4 separate regions of the Homo sapiens genome follow, and all the other regions are linked to region 1. Evidence: fine-mapped expression QTL. A gene starts in region 1. Each other region holds a variant in brackets. All regions are shown on one strand. Distances are between the middles of the regions.

What was found. PIP is the estimated chance that this variant, and not a neighbour inherited with it, causes the effect.
Region 2: its variant is fine-mapped to the expression of CAMTA1 in lung (TOPMed, PIP above 0.99). The same link has a PIP of 0.9 or more in breast and subcutaneous fat.
Region 3: its variant is fine-mapped to the expression of CAMTA1 in whole blood (INTERVAL, PIP above 0.99).
Region 4: its variant is fine-mapped to the expression of CAMTA1 in whole blood (INTERVAL, PIP 0.96).

What each region holds. Positions count from the first base shown.
Region 1 is chr1:6,783,439-6,788,584 of GRCh38, forward strand. It overlaps CAMTA1 (calmodulin binding transcription activator 1), which reads left to right and starts at 2,016. Exons shown (of 23, transcript NM_015215.4): 1 at 2,016-2,137. The coding sequence starts at 2,093. CAMTA1-DT (CAMTA1 divergent transcript) reads right to left here and starts at 1,542. Exons shown (of 3, transcript NR_149049.1): 1 at 1,220-1,542; 2 at 711-785; 3 at 454-607. RefSeq lists enhancers at 382-1,058, 1,059-1,733 and silencers at 859-918, 999-1,058, 1,189-1,598, 1,939-2,098, 2,309-2,578 and 1 more.
Region 2 is chr1:7,676,755-7,681,900 of GRCh38, forward strand. It overlaps CAMTA1 (calmodulin binding transcription activator 1), which reads left to right. Exons shown (of 23, transcript NM_015215.4): 11 at 845-979. Among named protein-coding and RNA genes, the nearest start is that of VAMP3, 92 kb to the right of the region's middle. The variant T/C (reference allele first, on the strand shown) is at 2,436.
Region 3 is chr1:7,741,852-7,746,997 of GRCh38, forward strand. CAMTA1 (calmodulin binding transcription activator 1) reads left to right here. Exons shown (of 23, transcript NM_015215.4): 17 at 2,984-3,171; 18 at 3,994-4,240. Among named protein-coding and RNA genes, the nearest start is that of VAMP3, 27 kb to the right of the region's middle. The variant A/G (reference allele first, on the strand shown) is at 2,604.
Region 4 is chr1:6,736,689-6,741,834 of GRCh38, forward strand. No RefSeq gene overlaps it. Among named protein-coding and RNA genes, the nearest start is that of LINC01672, 15 kb to the left of the region's middle. The variant ACG/A (reference allele first, on the strand shown) is at 2,464.

The DNA of each region.
Region 1 (5,146 bases):
TTTCTGATGTCTACAACTACCATAATGTTCCACTGTGTAGATGTAACACAATTTACTAAATACCCAATATTAGCACATGTAGGATGCTCCCAATTTTTTGTTGTAGTTAAGTACAGTGATCCTGTGAAGAATACCTTCACACATACAGCTTTTCTGGCATTTAGTGTTATTTCCTTAGAACAGATTCCCAGAAGTAAGATCACTGGGTCAAAAGATGCAGACATTTTTATGGCTTTTAATACATACTGTAAAATTGCTTTTCGAAAGGAATATACTAATTTACAATGCCACCAGCACTTCTTTTAAGAATCCGTTTCTCCACACAAATCGTCAACATAGGTGCTATTAAGAATGCTAATCGATAAAATATTGTCCCGCCGTTGTTAAAATTTTGCAATTTTTGAGGCTCATAAAATTAAAGTTTCTTGAAGAATGAGTGTGTAACACAAAACATTCTTTTGGGACATCTTTATTTCTGGAAAACCTAAGACATTCTTACTTGTGAAGACCAGAAAAAGAACACATGTTGTTAGGATTGGCACAGAATTCAGTGTGACAGTCAATCTTAATGCCAGAACACTTGAACGAGGATTTTTCACTTATTTTGCTAGTTGTCACCAACAGTAGCAAAAGGAAAAATAAAATGCGGAAGAATGAAATGTTCTTACTGCAAACCGTACAAGATCACATTGAGGGGCTGGAGCTCTTACATTCAACTTTTCTTTCCTTTTTCTTCTTTTTAAACAATTTGCGATTGCAGCCTCTCCTTTTGTTTCCGGTATTACCTGCCCAGGAGCAGAATTCCTTACTTTCTCCGGAGAGAGGCCGGTCCCTGGGAGCGCTGCCCAGCCACCCGCACGCCTAGCCGCCCCGAGAGCCGCACTCGGCGGACCCGGTTCCTAGGCTCGTTCCCGGGGCACCTGGCGGGCGCCCACCTCCCGGGGGGCACGTGCTCCCGTACGCAGCGCGAGGGCAGCGGGTGCCTGGCTATTTATTAGGAAAAGCCCCGCGCGGACTCTCCGGATTGAGGAGGGTGGGAAACTCGGCTGCCCAGCGCTCCACCCGGGCGGCCGGGGCTGGCGCTTCTCTGCTTTCGGCCGGCGGCCTCATCCTGGGACAGGCAACCATGAGTCATCCGCTCCGCGGGTCACATGGGCAACGTGACCAAAATAAAGTTTCGGTATTTTAAGCCGCCAGAAAAGGGGACAACGGAGCTCACCGGGGGCGGGCACAGGAGGCGGGCGCAGGCGGGCGGCGCCGGGGCCGTGGGGACGCGGCGCCGAGGGGGCGGGGCCTGGCGGGAGGCTCGCCCCTCCCCCACGGCCGGCAGCGACGCCCGGACTCCTAGGCAGTCGGACTCCAGGGCGCGGCACCCCTGCGGACCTCAGCCCCGAGGCCCCCCGCGTCCGGCTCCCCACCGGCAGCGGCGGCGGGCTGCGGGATCCCGGAGATCCCGGCGCGTCCCCCACAGCCACCGGGACCCCACGCGCCAGCAGCGGCTTCCCCGGGAACGTCCTTCAGCCCCGGGAGCACGCGGGAAAAGCCCCAGCGTGCCAATGAGGGAGCGCCTTCCTCATGACGGTCACGCTCGGGGGCGGGGCTTCCCTTCGCCGCTCCCGAGTTCCGGGAACCCCCTTTGATTGGTCTGGACGGCCTGGGAAACACTGTAGTGACGCCCAATCAAAACGCCACGTCTCGGCCTCGAGGAAATATTCCGTGTCGGGCCCGTCCTGATTGGACAGTTCTTTCGGGTTCTGGCCACTAGGAAGCTTTGTTTAGGTCCGGAAGGCGGGCTTTCCTGGGAGTGGGTGGGGAGGGGGCGTTGATTCTTGACCAATCCTTTCAGTCCGTTGGGTGGTGACCAGCCAATGGGCCGGATGGATAGGACGCTCCTCCCGGAGAGTAGTGAGACCCCTGGTGCGGGGCGATTGGCGGCGGGAGCGATGAGTGGCAGCCGCACGGCCCAACGGGAGCTGTGCGTGGGCCGCGGGGCGGGGCCAGGGCGGGTGCGCGGCGGCGGCGGGGTGGCTGGGCCGGCGGCGGCGGCGGTACGAGGCGCGCGCTCGGGGTCCCGGTCGCGAGGAGGAGGAGGATGTGGCGCGCGGAGGGGAAATGGCTGCCGAAAACAAGCCGGAAGGTAAGAGCCGGAGCGCGAGGGGCTGGGGGGCGGCGCGGCGGGCGGCGGGACCCGGCCCCGCCGGACATCCCGGGCATCGGCGGCGCCGGGCGGGAGCGCGGGGGCGCGGCGGGCGGGCGGGCGGGCGACCCGGCCGGGGAGGGGGCCGGCGGGGTGGGGGGGCGGAGCGCGGCCGAGTCCTGAGGTGACTCGCGGGGCCGGCGGAGCGCGGCGCCCCACACCCCACCCCCGGGGGCGGGCTGGGGCCGGAGGGGGCGGGGGGCTCGCGGGGCGGGGACCGGGCCCAGCGAGGAGGAGGAGCCGGCGGAGGGCCGGCGCCTCCCCCACCCGGACCGGGCATCCCCGCCGCTCCCGAGCCCGCTGCGCGGCCCCCGCACCCCCGGCGCTGGGTCCACGGTGGGGGCCGCGGGGCGGAAAGTTTATCCGCCTCGGGTCCTCCTGGCCCCGCGCCCCACTGCTCCGGGCCGGTCCCCGTCGGGCGGCAGCGGCCGGCGCTCAGCCCTCGCCGGCCCCCTGCTCTCCGGCGGGCAGGGCCAGATGTACTCTCTCCGGCACCCTCTTCAGCCCCGTGGACACCTCCCTGAGCGGGCGGGGGGTCCCCGAGCTTCTCCCCGCCAGGGGGACCCCGTCCTGCCGAGCGTCCCTCGGCCGAAGGGCCTCGTGTGACCCCTCCCCCTTCGCTTCCCGGGAAGGGAAGGGGGCCTGCGCAGCATCCCCGCCCCTCGCAGTCGTTCACATCCTACTCTTGCCCTTGCACCCTCACAGCCAGGAGGGTGGGGTCTCCGTTTCTATGGCAAGTGAGGATCTCCACACTCCCTTGCCCTTTACCTTCCGTGACCCCGATCCTTCCTTGGCACAGGGGTCCGTCTGATCTGCTCATCTTCTTTGGATTCTTTTGGGGCCTCTGCACACTCTCCGTTGACCCTTTTTGCCAGGACAAGGGGACTCAGGCTGCCCATGTTCTTCTTTCCTCACCCAGTGGATAGTGGGGGCTTGTGCAGCTCTGAAGTCATTTCTAAATAGGAAAGCAGACACTTCTTCCAGATCATGCATACTCTTACACTTTGCTGGGTTAGGGCGAGCTCATTTCCTAAATACCCTTTGAGTTGCCCTCCTTTTCTTATGGAGACAACTGGACGTTCACCGTGCTCCTTTCGCCATTTGTGTGTCTACACTGACTTGTTCTCTCTTCTCGGAGTTCCTTGTCTGGGTGAGAGTGGGCGCCCCAATAAGATGTAGGGCAGGGCTTCCATTGTGCCTAGTGCTTGAGTGAAAAGGGGCCACACTAGTTGCTCCTGTGTCTGAGGAAGACCGGGGTATATTTTTGCCTCCACTTGACTCTTGTGTCTCAGGAGGGGGCAACCTTCATCAGTTGACACTACCTCACTGGGAAAAGGGTCATGTGGCCTTGTTTTTTGATGTTTTGATTACTGTCTTCTGTGCAGTGAGAACCAGACTTTGTCCGTCCCACACTCAAGAGTCCTTGAACCTTTCCTGGATATAAACTTCCCGATTGTTTTTTGAGAGAACTCATATCCTCCTCTGTGGCTTCTGCTTCGCAGTCAGCCATATTTAGTGAGCCTGTTACTTTGACTTTTTCTAATTTTCTCAAATTGTATTCATGTTGGCTGGGTAAGGAGAAGCCATATGCCTTTCCATTCAGAAAAGGGAGTGTAGACACCCGTGTCGCCCACATGCCATCCTGGAAGAGGTTGCTTGTGTGCTCCTTGTTGTACTAGAACCTTCCTTTGGCTCTGGTGTTGTCTCTTGTGGGATCCAGACATTTCTTTAGATCTTGTAGCTTTCAGAAGGGGGAATTTGAATGCTTTCTGTTTTTTGCTGTTCCGGTTCTGCTTTGGAGAACCAGATCATGATGCTATATTCATTTGTTTACATATACATACATGTAGGTATACACAGATGAAATCACATTCATTACATATACAGTGCACAGGAAGTTGGAAGGGTCAGATGACTAGCTCTACATTTTGGGTGCATATGGGGACCTTTATGTGTAATGATACAGATAGATATTAACGTTGTTGGTAACTCTTCAGGCTTAGAAGCAGCAGCAGAAGAATCACGGATAAATGGCCAATTCTGACTATTCTTTGGTTTGTAATGTGTACTGTACTGAATAAGCAGAACGACATCCTGCGTGTTCACCAAGTCCCTGAATGTGCGAAGCGTACAGTGCCTGCCCATACGCATCGCAACTTTGGCGGTCTGAATTTAGGGGTGGTATTCGTTGCTTGATTCTGCATAGAGTGAAAAGTTCTTGATTTCTTTACTGCAGTGTAGGGGAAAGAGATTTCGTGTGTTTGGACAAACGACAGGAGATGGGTGAGAAGAATATGTTTTCCTGTGACAGAACTAGGAACGAATGACCGTAAATATGTCCCTTTTGTATTTTGGCCATTTAAATAATTGAGAGAGGTTGTGAAATTAGCAAAATGTACCTGTGGAAAGGCCCTCGACGCTTCATGAGAGGATGGGGAACGTTATTCTTCAAGTTCTTTTCTCTTGGACAGGGGAATGATTTGAGCCCTGTCGGCTCTAGTCAGGTGCTTTGCCTCCTCAGGTCTCCCTCCCTCCCTCCCTCCCTCCCTTTCTCCCTCTTTCACGAAATTCAGAATGGCTGCTAGCCGCTGTCACTCAGCAGGGAAGTCTTACTCTTTGACAGGCTTAGTGTGGAGACTCATCCTCCCCAACAAGTTCCGTTGGGCTCTGGGGCTTTGGCCTTTAAAACTGTTCTAGCTCAGAGGCTCGCTTTGCCTCAGTTTACTGTGTAAGGAGAAGTGGCTCATCGGAGATTGGGTCAGCGCTAGTTCTGTGACTTCTGGACTTTGCCTTTCAGTTAGCATTGAGTCGTCCAGTGGGCCTGATTCCCAATGTCAGAAAGTAGAGCTTTTGAGCTCATTTTCTTGTTTTTGGTTTTAAATGTTTTTATGCTGTTCGTATTCTGTGTCTGTAGTCAGCTTGATGGGATTGTGTATTTTTAGGGGGTGT
Region 2 (5,146 bases), 890 kb after region 1:
TGCCCACGGGCCACCTCTGTGGGCCACAGGCCAGCCCCCAAGATGCCAACATGAGCCATGGAGAGGCAACCTCAACCCAAGAGCTGAAGCTGGTCTCCACCGCAGGCTGGCTTCGTCTTACTCACAGTGAGAACATACCTCGTTTATTCCACAAATAGAGTTATTTGTTGAGCCCTGTGTTGGGGCCACAGCAGTTAACGAGACCTGCCAGGGCCCTGTCTTCCAGAGCTTACTGTCGGGCCACTGGAGGGAGGTGCAACCTTCACATCAGCATCCCCAGCTCAACACCCACTGGGGCTGAGCTGGGGCCAGGGTAACAGAGGCACATCTGAAGCTCCTTCATCGGGGAAGCAGAAGAACTAAAAATACAAGGGATGGCTGGCTGTTCATCGAGTCAGGACAAGCTTGTAGGAATAGGTGAAACAAAATAAGCGCAAATAAATCCAAAGCAAATTTTGTACCCGAGCCCCACCCAGGAAGGATGGGACAAGAGGGGAAGTCAGCCAGCCATGAGGCAGGGATGGGGGCCATTCACTCATTCACTTGTTCAGCCAGTCTGTACTGAGCACCCAGCTCCTGCCCTCACTCGGAGGACAAAGCAAAGGGGCAGTTACGTACCTGGGAGTGATCACAGGACAGCTGGCTGAGTCTGGGCGAACCAAGAAGGTTCCTAGAAGCAGCATTGTGTTTGGGCCTCGAATGAGCAGGCATAGGCTACCATTAAGGAGAGCTGGACATTAACCAATGAAGGGTAGTGGGGAGGGGACATTCCAGGCCCTGTGTGGTTCACCAGGCTGTAGGTACCCACCCATCCCTTGACCTGGTCTTTTTCTCTCGCTTTCAGCCCATGACACTGGTCTTGTGACCCTACAAGTTGCCTTCAACAACCAGATCATCTCCAACTCGGTGGTGTTTGAGTACAAAGCCCGGGCTCTGCCCACGCTCCCTTCCTCCCAGCACGACTGGCTGTCGTTGGACGGTAAGAACAGTGCTTGGGTCGTCTTGCCAGGCACCAAGGGAGAGGGATGCTTGGGGACTCTTGCACAAGGTGTGAAAGAAGAGTAAGCACCCAGAAAGGGGCAGGAAGTGGTGCCAATGTGAGCAAAGGAAGGCCGACTGGGTCTCCACCGCCAGGCTGAGTGCCTATGCTGTCAGCCATTTGTGTCTGGACACTGGCTGGCCCCACCCTCAATCTCAGTCTCTCCCTGGGACAGACTGAAAAGTATGTGAGTGTGGGCCTGTGGCTGGCACGCCTGCTGGGCTGTCTGAGTGGCCAAGCAAGCCCAGGGCAGCTAAGAGGCTCTGGCGAAGGACCCCAGGCAGCAAGGTCCAAGCACCCGCTGTGCCCCTCCAGGCCTGTTTCCGCGGGCTCCTGGAAGCAAAAAGGGTTCCCAGAGGCCATCGCCAAGCCCCAAGCCTCTCGAGAAAGAGGACGGGGAGGCAGCTCAGGCCTGGGCTTCTTTCGAATTTGGGGGCTTGCTTCTGCCTTTTGGGGCTAACCAGCCAAATCTTCTCCTGGAAGCCCTCAAATACCCTCAACTCCAGCTTCTTGGCTGATTTTAATTCCACCTCTGGCCTGTACGGCGTCTGTGGCAAGCCCAGGATCACGACTGTGGCAGAGGGTAGAGTGTCAGGGACCCCAGTGGGCTTCAAGGGAGCAGGCAGGACCTGGTGGTCAAGGAGAGGCAGGGACTCCAAGAGCTGCCAGCCTTGGCCATGGGGGTCGGTGAGTGTTGGTGGTTCCCCTTGGGGTACCAGGGGCTCTGCAGAGAAGAGCTGCCAAAGGCAGGCTGGGGACGCCAGAGCCAGAGGCTGCCATTTCCCACCTGGGCACACGTCAGGAGGCCCAGAGCTAGCCAAGGCCTGGGGGGCTGAGCCCAGTACACTGGGGATGCGGTAGGAGGGATGCCTGTCCATAACCTCAGTATCAGGTGAGCCCACAGAGGTGACACTCCATGGGGTACCTTGCTGGAGACCTTGCTAGCCCAGGATGTTGAGGTCTGGGCTAAGCTGAGCCTGAGCCCCTTGCAGGGGTGGGTTCTCCAAGCAACACCCCCTCACGCACCCCGCACCCACAGCTGGCCTTCTGGGTCTCACCTCTCAGACTGCCCCTTGCTGTTGGCTGCTGGAGGATTTCTGGGCTTGGGTACATAGTTCATTTCCTGAACCACCCAGTGTGTAAACCTCAGCCTTATCCCAGTCCCTGCCCCAGCCGAGAGAGAGGGTGCCGACAGCTGCCCTGGCTGGTGAACCCTCAGGAGACAATTCCCTGGGGTGGCTTTGGGTCTTCAAACCCTAGCATGGGCTGCCCTGGGGCACCGAGCTGCCCTTGGCAGCATCTCTGGCTGAGGCCGGAGCCAGGCAGAGCTGTGATGACCACCCACAGGATGTAACAAAGAAGGGCAGGGTGACCAGGGGCTCCCGTTTAGGAAATC[T/C]GGTTTTAGTTTTGCAGAACAAATGGGGAATGGAGTCAGGAACTCTCCAGAGCTCTGGCTCTCCCTGAGTGACTTGGCCGGCCTCACTAGAATGAACCCAAGGATGCTGGGACCACTGTAGGACCCTGCCTGGCAGATGGAGCCTTTTCAGAGAGCAAAGTCACAGTCAGGCAGTGCCCCAGAGCTCAGGACACATCTGCAGGCCCCCTGGAAACCCAGAGAGCCAGCTGTACCCCAGAAGCTACGGCACGGGAGGATGCTGCCATAGAAACCGGGGGGAAGGGGAGCCACCCAACTGCTTCATGACAGACACACCCCGGGACCTCGGCCACCCCAGGCCCCTCGAGATGGGCCTGCCGCCAAGCTGGGCACCTGCTCCCTAGCTGCCCCCCCCCCCAGAACTTTGAGCTCTGAACTCTGTGGGCCTCCAAGTTGAAATAAGCACCCCTGCACCTGCAGGATACACAGGAGGGTGACAGGAATTGGGGCGGCGATGACATCAAGGCCTGGGCGTCCAGCAGCATCGCCTCTGTTACCACCAGCCAGGGCACAGCTAGGGGAACAGTAGCTCCGCAGCTTGGACCCCCAGCTCAGAGCGCCCTGCTGAACCAGAGGGGACCAGCCTGGGGTCCACCTCGGCCCAGGGGCCCTGCAGAGAGCAGATCAGGGCCCTGAAGGACGCTTTCCTTTGGTCTGGGCCAGTTGTCCTTTCAAGGAATGAGTGGGAGGCAGGGACAGAGGAACTGCCAGACCCCACCTGGCTGGGGAGAAGCGGGTCTTCCCTGGCTATTCTTTTTCCCCCTAAATGAATACAAGGCACTCACCCACCCAAGGGCCCAGCCTTCCCAGCCTTTCACCAGCTTGATAAATACTAAGGGAGGGGAGGGGAAGCAGCGCCGCAGTCGCAGCGCAAAGGGGGCCGCGGGAACAGCTAGTCGGGAGCGCGGGGGTCCCGGGCCTCTGGCCAGCCACGGGGCCTGGCCATGAACTTTGCGTCCGGGCCAATGCTGCAGTGGCCGGGCGGTGGTGAGCCTTCCGTTCCCCGCCTGTCCCTCCCGGCCCCTCCCCTCGGTCTCCGCAGCTTCTCGGCTCAGCCCCTCCCGTCCCCGCGGGCGCTGGGCCGATTCTCCCTCCGCGCTGGCCAGGCCGTGGAGACGGGTTCGCCGCGGAGAGGGGAGGAGGGCTGGGGAAGGGGTGGGCGCCAGGGGACTGCAGCGCGGAGCAAACTGGGGCACGGCTGCCGGCGGCGCGCGTGCACACACTCTCTCCCACGCGCGCGCCCTCCCGCCGACGCGCAGCCGCAATGCGGGGCCCTTCGCGGAACTGCTGGCGGCGCCGCGCCCCGCGGGGTCTGGGGCCCCAGCAGGGACTGCGAGGACCGCGGGACTAGGAAGGCCTGAGCCCGGCCACCCGCCTCCGAGTGCGCCGCACCGTGCGGCGGGGACCACAGGCCTTCGGTGGGCGGCGAGCCCTGGCTCCCTCGTTCGGTGGCCTCTGCTGCATGTGGGATGCGCCCTTTGTCCCCTCTGCCATGCGCGGGGGAAAATGTTTGAGGGCGGGGAAGAGACTGTCTGCCCTCATTTGATCTAAAACATGAATTTGTTTGCTTGGCTAAAGGCCGGGGGGGGGCGTGGGTCCGGGGCGCAGAGAACACGCGCGCGCGCGCGCGCGCCAGCAGCAGCAGCAGCAGCAGCTGCTGCGGCGAAGTCTTTGTCCCCGCGGCGCAGCCTTTGTCCCCGCGGCGTAGCTTTTGTTTGCGCAGCCCCGCCCTGCGGAGGGCGATCGTCCCCACGTTGGGGCCGGGGGGCAGGGACCCGACGTCCCCAAAATCTCAGCTGGGGCGCAGCCATCCTGGGAGAGACCGGGCGTGGAGATGGGGGAAGGTGGGAGGAGGAATCGCAGCCTTCTGGATCCCGGAGCTGCAGCGCCTCCCCCAGACCTAGGGGTCTTCCCCTCCCTTCCCCTGCGCCCCACTGTGAGCTCCAGGGTCAAAGGCCCTGTCTGCTGGACCCCCATCACTTAGCCCAGGGTTGGCACGTGGTGGGCTGCAGTACATATTTGTGATATGAATGCAGGCACACGTGAATGAGTGCAGGAGGGACTGTCAAAAAGCTGAATCCAACTAGTGGTAAGGAAGGTTTCACAGAGGAAACGACCCCCTTGGTGAGACCTGAAGCCTGAGCAGGGTTAGCCCGGGAAGAGGGGGCATCAAGGGTGGCAGGAGAGGGAATGAGCGGCTGCCTTTAACCCAGGGTCTTCGGGAACTGCCGTTTTCACCATTTCTCCTCCACCCACAAAGGTGCGGATTCAGAACAAATTTCCTCTGTCCTGACCTGACCCCAGGCCATTTGCACAGGACCCCAGGGAGGTCTGAGCAGGCCAGCTCTTCATACAAAGATGCAAGGGGGACCTCTTCCAGGCTAGAGGTAGGCAGGCAATGGGGTTTACCCTGGAGACCCACTGGGGAGGATCTCTGGGAAATGTCACTTATACCTGTGATAGGTCCTATGGATACAACAGCCAGGGCCGTGCTGAACTTCAAGAGGATGCTGTCTGTGTAGATTTGGCCTCGCCTGTGCCTGTGTTTACAAAGAGAATAAACCCAGGCAGTTCAACACTGCAGCCCTGGAGCTGAGGGGATGGGGCGGGCCCTCTTCTGGCCAAGGACACTGGGACACCTTTAAGTGACCTGGGTCCCTAGAAGAGAAGGT
Region 3 (5,146 bases), 960 kb after region 1:
TGGTCTCGATCTCCTGACCTTGTGATCTGCCTGCCTCCACCTCCCAAAGTGCTGGGATTACAGGTGTGAGCCACCATGCCCGGCCTCGGGTTGTTTTTTTTTTTTTTTTTAAATAAAAGCAGGATATACTATATGCTACTTGTAAGAAATACAATCAAAATGAAATGAAAGAGAAACAATGAAAATGAAATGATAGATAACAGCTATAATAGATAAACGAGTATAAAAAGAAAGATAAAAAGTACAATTCAAGGCAAATTAATGTGTGTGTGTATATATACATATATATATACATACAGTTTATCTAGAAGATATGACAGTTATAAACTATTGTGTACCTAGCACCATAACCTTGAAACATTACAGCAAATACTAGTAAATACAAAGAAATGTGGACCCATAATCACAGTGTGCTACTAACACACATAGCTCAGAATTTTTCAGATCAAGTAGATATGAAAAGCATATGAACAAGTTGAACAACAAAATCAGAAGGCTTGATTTCATATATATTTACTATATGATAGATTTAATATATGATATACTTATATATAACTATATGTGTGTATGTAGTTAATACACATAGCAACTACGTATATAATTGTTCTTTTCAGGTGTCCAAGGCATGTTTATGAAAACTGCTCATATACTAGGACACGAAGAAAATTTGAATAAAAATCCAAAGCTACCCATTTAAAGGCCGTCTTCTCTGAGCACAATCCATGAAATTTAGAAATGAGTGACGTGACTTTTCAGGTCCAACTACTGAGAACGTTACTTAAGATGTTTTTACATTGTTACATGTTTATAAAATGGAGGATTTAGGAAAGTGATTGTAGAGTGATAACCTTTTAGGCTTCAGAAATTCCACCTTACTTTTAATATATTTGAATACTTTCATGGAAAAAGAATAAAGCAAGATTTACTTCCTACCGTTTGAGTCACAAATCAAGACGGCCAATAGAGAAGGTGAAAGAAAGCTGCAATTTTTTTTTGAGACAGAGTCTTGCTATGTCACCCAGGCTGGAGTGCGGTGGTGCCATCTTGGCTCACTGCAACTTCCATCTCCTGGGTTCAAGCAATTCTCCTGCCTTGGCCTCTCTAGTATCTGGGATTACAGATACTGTAAGAAAGCACTAGGCCTGCACCACCATATCTGGCTAATTTTGGGGGTTTTTTTGGGTAGAGACAGGGTTTCGCCATATTGCCCAGGCTGGGCTTGAACTCCTGAGCTCAGGCGATCCACCCGCCTCGGCCTCACAAAAGTGCTGAGATTACAGGCCTGAGCCACCACGCCTGGCCCAATATATTTTTCTTAAATTTTTTATTTTTATTGTTATTACAAAAACGAATTGTTCTTTGATGAAAATTTATAAAATTATCCACAATAAGCATTTTTAACAGCTTTATTGAGGTATAATTTACGTATGATAAAAAATTTATAAAATTATCCACAATAAGCATTTTTAACAGCTTTATTGAGGTATAATTTACGTATGATAAAATTTACCCATTTTAAATGCTCAGGGGATGGCTTCTAGTAAACATATACAGCTGAGCAACCATCACCATAGTCCCTTTCTAGAACACTTCCATCTCACTGCACGGTGCCCTGTGCCCATCTGCAGTCCGTCTCTGCCCAGCCTTAGGCAACCACTGATCTGATTCTATCCCCAGAGGTTTGCTTTTTCTAGACATTTCATGTAAGTGGAATCATGCACCATGCAGCCCACTGCGGCTGTTTCCACTTAGCAGGATGTTGTTGAGGCTCCTTCGTGTTGGCAGGAGAAGCATTTTGTCACTTTGTATAGTTCCATCGAGAACATTTTCAGTTCACTTAAGAACCCGAAGTGCTGTGTTTCAGTTACCACTCCTAAGAGGTATGCAAGGACATTTTTAAGAATCAGTCCACATCTCTGATTCTCATAAAGAATATCTTAATCCAGACCAGCTTTGAGGATTCTTTTTTTCTTTTCTTTTCTTTTTTTTTTCTGAGACGGAGTCTTACTCTGTCGCCCAGGCTGGAGTGCAGTGGCGCGATCTTGGCTTACTGCAAGCTCCACCTCCCAGGTTCATGCCATTCTCCTGCCTCAGCCTCCCGAGTAGCTGGCACTACAGGCGCCCGCCACCACGCCCAGCTAATTTTTTGTATTTTTTAATAGAGACGGGGTTTCACCGTGTTAGCCAGGATGGTCTTAATCTCCTGACCTCGTGATCCGCCAGCCTTGGCCTCCCAAAGTGCTGGGATTACAGGCGTGAGCCACTGCGCCTGGCCTCTTTTTTTTTTTTTTTTTTTTTGAGTTGGAGTCTCGCGCTGTCGCCCAGGCTGGAGTGCAGTGGCGCGATCTTGGTTCACTGCAACCTCCACCTCCCAGGTTTAAGTGATTCTCCTGCCTCAGCCTCCCACGTAGCTGGGATTATAGGCAAGCACCACCATACCTGGCTAATTTTTGTATTTTTAGTAGGGACAGGGTTTCATCATGTTGGCCAGGATGGTCTGGAACTCCTGACCTCAAGTGATCCACCCACCTCGGCCTCCCAAAGTGCTGGGATTACAGGCATGAGCCACTGTTCCCAGCCTAGACCGGGGTTCTCTAGGCCAG[A/G]CAAAAGGGGGTGGTTAGATATTGGTTATGTAACTAATAGTGACACCTCATTAATATTACAGGTTACTCTAGAACTGCCCAGTGTCATTAATTGGTTGACCCTGAGAGTAGGGAGTACATACAAGCCAGAAGTTCTCCAAGACTGGACTAAAGGTTTGGGGCCAGACTATGACTTGGAGATAATCAGGTCTCAGGATCTCAGCACATTTTGGTGTGTTATGTTATAACCTTAAAATGGTATTTCATTGCATTGGATTGAGGTGGAAGTCTGCCCTCCTGCCTGATTATTTTTTTCTCTCCAAGGCGAGGCAGGGAGGTAGACCTGGATAACTTGTAAGGTTCCTTTCTAACCTGAGTGTTCTGTGAACTTCTGACTTCAGGTGAACATGATGACCTTGGCAGAACACATTATTGAAGCCACACCTGACCGAATCAAGCAGGAGAATTTTGTGCCCATGGAGTCCTCAGGATTGGAAAGAACAGACCCTGCCACCATTAGCAGTACAATGAGCTGGCTGGCCAGTTATCTAGCGGATGCTGACTGCCTTCCCAGTGCTGCCCAGATCCGGTGAGTAAAGTTACGGAGGTCACTACCCAGCATAGATTCCCGGATGTAATTGGAGGCAGGGGAGGCTGATTGTATTTGATGAATGCCGTGTCATAGAAGACCATACCAAGGAAGGAAGGAAGCATGAGGACAAGCTCTGTTGCCACTTTCAAGGCCCAGCTCCTATTCCTACCTCTCCCATTATTTTTTTTACTGCTATCAGAGCATAAGAGATCGTGTTAAGCTGGGCGCGGTGGCTCATGCCTGTAATCCCAGCACTTTTGGGAGGCCAAGGCGGGTGGATCACCTGAGGTCAGGAGTTTGAGACCAGCCTGGCCAACATGGTAAAACCCCGTCTCTACTAAAAATACAAAATTAGCCGGGCATGGTGATAGGCGCCTGTAATCCCAGCTACTTGGGAGGCTGAGGCAGGAGAATTGCTTGAACCCAAGAGGCGGAGGTTACAATCAGCTGAGATTGCACCACTGCACCCCAGTCTGCGCAACAGAGCAAGATTCTGTCTCAAAAAAAAGAAAAAAAAGAGAGATAATGTAGCATAATGTTTCCCCCTAATTCAGCTGAAGTTTTCTAATGGCAGTAGAGTGTACTGCTACTAGGTTTTAGTATTTAGCATAGTACTAAAGTTATGATAGGTGTTGAGTATAAACTTACTCAATCGAAGGACACTGGGTATGTTTAGCAACTTGCCTAACTGAATGAAGGCATGTTCCTAATTGCCCACAGTGGCTTCTGGCAGATACCATCTTGGCTCATTCATTAATATCTAATGGGTGGTGCAAATCAATCATTAATCTGTCTCTCCTTTTTCTCCTCTTGTTTCAGAAGTGCATATAACGAGCCTCTAACCCCTTCTTCTAATACCAGCTTGAGCCCTGTTGGCTCTCCCGTCAGTGAAATCGCTTTCGAGAAACCTAACCTTCCCTCCGCCGCGGATTGGTCAGAATTCCTGAGTGCATCTACCAGTGAGAAGGTAGAGAATGAGTTTGCTCAGCTCACTCTGTCTGATCATGAACAGAGAGAACTCTATGAGGCTGCCAGGCTTGTCCAGACAGCTTTCCGGAAATACAAGGTAAACTAGAACAGAACCTTCGTTTTGTGACATTCTTAAGATCAGAGAGGACAGATGAAAGTCAGAATCATGCGAACAAAAACATTTACTATTTCTTTTTTTCCTCTGAATTTGTAGAATTTTTTTGGAAGTCTCCAATTTATTAAGATTCACTATATAACATATCTGTGTGTGTATCTGCTTTGTAAAAATATTTTATGGTAAAATATTCATAACATAAAGTTTGCCATTTTGTCTGTTTTAAAGTGTGCAGTGTGGGGGCATTAAGTATATTCACAGTGCTGTGCAACTGTCACTGCTACCCATTTCCAGAGCTTTCTCATTCTCCCAAACCATTTGCTTTTAACAACCAATTTTTAAACAGTTAAACATGAAATTTTTATCAAATGTTTACAAAGTTCCTAAAGCACCTTCATAGAAGAGTTTCAGAAGCGTAGTCTTCTCAGTTATCTGAGGCATAGAGAATAACTGGCTGGGACAAGGGCCCATCCATGGTTAGGCCAGGGCGGGAATGGGGCTTTTCCGGCACAGAACAATGCTGATTTTTCTTTTTCTTTTTTTGAAATGGAGTCTCATTCTGTTGCCAAGGCTGGAGAAGTGCAGTGGTGCAATCTCTGCTCACTGCAACCTCCACCTCCCAATTCAGGTGATTCTCCTGCCTCAGCCTCCCAAGTAGCTGGAATTACTGGCGCGTGCCACCACACCCGCCTAATTCTTGTATTTTTAGTAGAGACAGGTTTTCACAATGTTGGCCAGGCTGGTCTCGAACTCTTAACCTCAAGTGATCCGCCTGCCTTGGCCTCCCAAAGTGCTGGGATTACAGGCATGAGCCACCGCACCCAGCCTTGATTTTCCTATTCTACCTTGCCATCCTGAGTACAATGTCTCTTTATTATTCCTTAAAAC
Region 4 (5,146 bases), 47 kb before region 1:
AGGATGATGGCCTCCAGCTGCATCCCCATTGCTGCAAAATATATGATTTTGGAAGATGGAACACTTGAGGCCAGGAGTTCGAGACCAGCCTGGTCAACATGATGAAACCCCATCTCTACCAACAATACAAAAAATTAGCTAGGTGTGGTCGTGCGCACCTATAATCCCAGCTACTCGGGAGGCTGAGGCAGGAGAATCACTTGAACCCAGGAGGTGGAGGCTGCAGTGAGCCGAGATCATGCCACTGTACTCCAGCCAGGTGACAGAGTGAGACAAAAAACAAAACAAAACATGATTTTGTTCTTTTTCATGGCTGCAAATATCAACTTTTAACATTAACTGCCCCATTCTCTCAAGCTTACGGTTTCTTCCTTCAAATGCCCCAGGCAAGAATCTGATTGGTCCAGCTCATTTTTTTTCTTTTTCTTTTTTTTTTTTTTTTGAGACGGAGTCTCACTCTATTGCCCAGGCTGGAGGGCAGTGGCACCATCTCGGCTCACTGCAACTTTCTCCACCTCCCGGGTTCAAGTGATTCTCTTGCCTCACCCTCCTGAGTAGCTGGGACCACAGGTGTGTGCCACCACGTCTGGCTAATTTTTGTATTTTTAGTAGGGACGGGTTTCACCATGTTGGCCAGGCTGGTCTTGAACACCTGACCTGAAATGATCTGCCCTCCTCAGCCTCCCAAAGTGCTGGGATTACAGGCATGAGCCACTGGGCCTGGCTACCTCATCTTTCTAAACCAGGATGATGCGCAGTCCCTGGATTGGCTGTTCTAGGTCAGGAGACCCACAGTCCTATCAAATGTGGCTAAGGGTCAATGTCATATGCTACAAAACATGGCTGCCCATAGACAGTTTTCACCAAAGGATAAGGCGGGTCATGGGGACTGTCATTTAGAGTGGTGGGCAACACTCTCTCCATTGTGCAGCAGTGATGTGGTGCAGTGGTTTGACACCAGGTGGGCGGGGAGGGGGGCTGCTGAAGCCAATCAAGCTAATTCCACTCCTTCCCCTTGCCTATTCTTAGTCAAAGAATCCGAGGTTGGGCCAGCAAGTGGCATTCCTCTGTGACAGGGAGAGGTTCAGGGATGGGTCTGCAGATCAGTTTGATGTTTTCTCAAGGACATTGTTGGGAAGGAAATGTCCTTGTTTTTAAGGAACGGCCATAGGGAGAAGTGGTCTCTCTTCCTTTGGACATTGCTGTGCACAAATAAATGGGAGAGCCCCAAGCTGCGGCAGCCATTCTTACTTCTGCTCCAAGGATGACATCACCAGCTCAAGAGGGCAGGACTCAGAGCATGGCAGGGAAACTGAGGCAGAGCCAGTGGAATAGCTAGGTCCCAAAGCCCACCCTTTCTCTTGGCCTCCAGTCATTTGATCCAATAAATGTCCTTATTGTTTAAGCCAGTTTTGGGCTTTTGTAATTTGCAGCTAAAAGCATGGCTGGGAGTAGGGGGTGGGCTGGGTAGGGGGTGCCTGTGGGCCTGGTGGGGAATGCATAGGGTGTGATTTCTGAATATTATGCAGGGGGCGGGCCAGTTCCACAAGCAGACAGCCGAGAAGTCACAGAGGACCCTGTACTTGGCTTAATGATTTGCTGTCTTAAAATTCCTATTAAAATTTTTTTTAAATTTTATTTTAGAGATGGGCTCCAGCTCTGTTGCCCTGGCTGGAGAGCAGTGGTGCGATCATAGCTCACTACAGCCTCAAACTCCTGGGCTCAAGCAATCCTCTTGCCTCTGCCTCCCAAGTAGCTGGGACTACAGGCATGCACAATCATAGATGGCTAATTTATTTATTTTGCAGAGATCGGGTCTCAGTATGTTGCACTGGCTTCTCTTGAACTCCTAGGCTCCAGTGATCCTCTGACCTTGGCCTCCCAAAGTGCTGGGATTACAGGTGTGAGCCACTATATCCAGTTATACATTTTTAACAAGGGGCCTGCATTTTCATTTTGCACCAGGTCCTACGAGTCATGTAGACAGTCCCAGGCAGGTGACAGAACATTTAGAAAAGGAGTGTGTAGACTGTAAAGCACTATACAAAAGCATCCTGTCCTTCTCCCCAGGGACAAAAGACACTATGTGAGCCTCCTATGCCTAGTTTCATGGGTCTTCCTGCCAGCAAACCTCCCATCCATACGCTCCAACTGTCTGCTGCCCGACCCCTGATAGCCTGCACAGACAGCGGGTCAACTCCGACCTACTGTGTTCCCATAGGAACGTGGAGAGATAGGTAGAGAATTCATTATCCATTGAAGTTTGTTTTCCGTTTTTGGAAGTTTTGGGAAGTATAAGACCAAAGTTAAACTATTTAATTAACAGCTAAACAAATGAGTAAAGCGCACACACACACACACGCACACACACACGCGCGCACACACACACGCGCACAAACACGCGCACGCACACACACGCACACACACACACGCACGCACACACACACACACGCACACACTCAC[ACG/A]CACACACGCACGCACACGCACGCACACACACACAAACTACTATGTTTGCTGGGCCTGAATTAAAATCTACTGGTCTGGGCTGGCCATGGTGACTCATGCCTGTAATCCTAGCACTGTGGGAGGCCGAGGTGGGCTGATCACCTGAGGTTAAGAGTTCAAGACCAGCCTGGCCAACTTGATGAAACACCAACTCTATTAAAATACAAAAATTAGCTGGGCGTGGTGACTCGTGCCTGTAGTTCCAGCTACTCGGGAGGCTGAGGCATGAGAATCGCTTGAACCCGAGATGCAGAGGTTGAGGTGAGCCGAGATTGCGCCACTACACTCCAGCCTGGGACTCTGTCTCAAAAATCTATTTCTCTGTTCAGAATCTTCCTCTGCCTTTTAGGGACCTACTTTAGACTCACGGGCCCGACTATCCTACCTTTATCTTTGTGTGTGTGTGTGTGTGTTTCCCACTGAACGTGGGCTCATATGTCACAGGTGAAAAGAATGGCTGTCTGATTCAGCCTGTCCCTTCATCCTGCTCATGTAGTTCCAGCGAGTGAGTGTTACTTCGGAGATAATGAATGCATCCCATTTAGTGCAAAAATATACCTTGTCACCGGTCACATGGCAAATGTAGCCATAAAAAGTTAAAAATGCTATTATTTAAAATTTATTTTCTCATAAAAAATGGTTCCTGAAATGATCATAATTTGAAGAACTTACTTCATAGTTATGATACATTATGCCCGGGCCCAGGCCTAAGGCTGGTAATCCCAGAGCCAAGGGGGAGACCTCGGTCTTGGTTAGGACTAGGCAGCCTCGGTCCCTACCACCCCTTCCTTTACGGAGCCTCCACTCTATGTCTGTTTCATTTACATCAACCCAAAATTGTGACTGCAGATGAGCCCATTTTACACTATTGCCTCCCCATTCCCAAAATGGCTTTTTTGTTTTTTTTTGAGACAGGGTCTCACTGTCGCTCAAGCTGAAGTGCAGTGCTGCGATCTCAGCTCACTGCAACCTCTGTCTCCCAGGCTTAAGCGATCCTCACACCTCAGCCTCCCGAGTAGCTGGGACTACAGATAGGCATGCATCATTATGCGTGGCTCTTTTTTTTTTTTTTTTTGAGAGGGGGTTTCGTTAAGTTGGCCAGGCTGACCTCAAACTCCTGGGCTCAAGCAATCCTCTTGTCTTTGTGTCCTGAGTAGCTGAGACTGCAGGTGCACACCACCATGCCTGGCTAATGTTATTTTATCTAATTTTTTTGTAGAGACAAGGTCTTGCCACATCATTGCCCAGGCTGGTCTTGAACTCTGAGGCTCAAGTGATTTTCTTGCCTCGGCCTTCTAAAGTGCTGGGATTGCAGGTGTGAGCCACGATGTCTGGCCTCAAATGGCATTGTGTGTGTGTGTGTGTGTGTGTGTGTGTGTGTGTGTGTGTGTGAAGTTTGCAGGTTTAGAGACTTTTCTCCCAGTGGACTTTAATTCTCTTAGGTAAAGGAAAGGGCATGATGCTGGCTGGAATCCTCAGGATGAATGTCCCCTTTGTGCTTCATCAGGGGTTCCTGATCTTACTTTGGGGACCCCTCCTTCCCCCACTCCAATGATTGTCCGACCTGAGAGTCATCGAAGTGTGTGGATTCAGGAGGTTTGTGGTCACCATTTAGTGATCAGCCATGGTATGAGAAATCTCCACTGCTTCTGGTGCAGGCGACGGTGGGGGGCACCCCTGATAGAGCAGCACCTATGTTCCTGACAGTAATAAACATGTTTGTCCCTGCTATGCATGACATGGCACAAGCCTGCTAACAACTGCAGCTTAAGGAGAGCAGGGTTCTGTGCTGGGAACCCTACAGATGCATAATTTCTTTTCTCTTTTTGACCCTGTGCTCCAAGATGCATAATTTCATTATTATTATTTTTATTATTTTGAGACAGAGCCGAGGCTGGATGCAGTGGTACCATCTCAACTCATTGCAACCTCTGCCTCCTGGGTTCAAGTGATTCTCCTGCCTCAGCCTTCTGAGTAGCTGGGATTATAGGTGCCCGCCAACAAGTCTGGCTGATTTTTGTATTTTTAGTAGAGATGGGGTTTCCCTATGTTGGCCCAGGCTGGTCTTGAACTCCTGGCCTCAAGTGATCCACCCGCCTCGACCTCCCAAAGTGCTGGGATTACAGGTGTGAGCCACTGCCCGCTGCCAATTTCATTAATCTTTGTAACTATCCTGTGGGAAAATATATGCGTTTCCTACTCCTGTTGTAACCAATGATCACAAACATAGTGCCCTAAAACAACACATCCATTTATTATCTTACAGTTATGGAGGAAATGGGTCTTACTGGACCAAAATGAAGGCATTGGCCGAGCTGTGTTCCTGCTCTAGGCTCTGCAGGAGAATCCCTTTCCTTGCCTTTTCCAGCTCCCTCAGGCTGCCCACATCCCTTGGTTTGTGGTCCCCTCCTCCTCCTCTTCAAAGCCAGCAGTGCTGCCTCTTCACATCTCGCTCTGACCTTGGCGGTTGTGATCCCATCTCCTTCTCAGACTCTGACTCTCATGCCTCCCTCTTCTAAGGACTCTTGTGATCCCACTGGGTCCACTTGGATGATGCAGGAGAGTCCCCATAACTCACTCAACATCTTTCCATTTCATCACATCTGTAAAGACCCTTTGTGGACCGGGCGAGGTGGCTCTC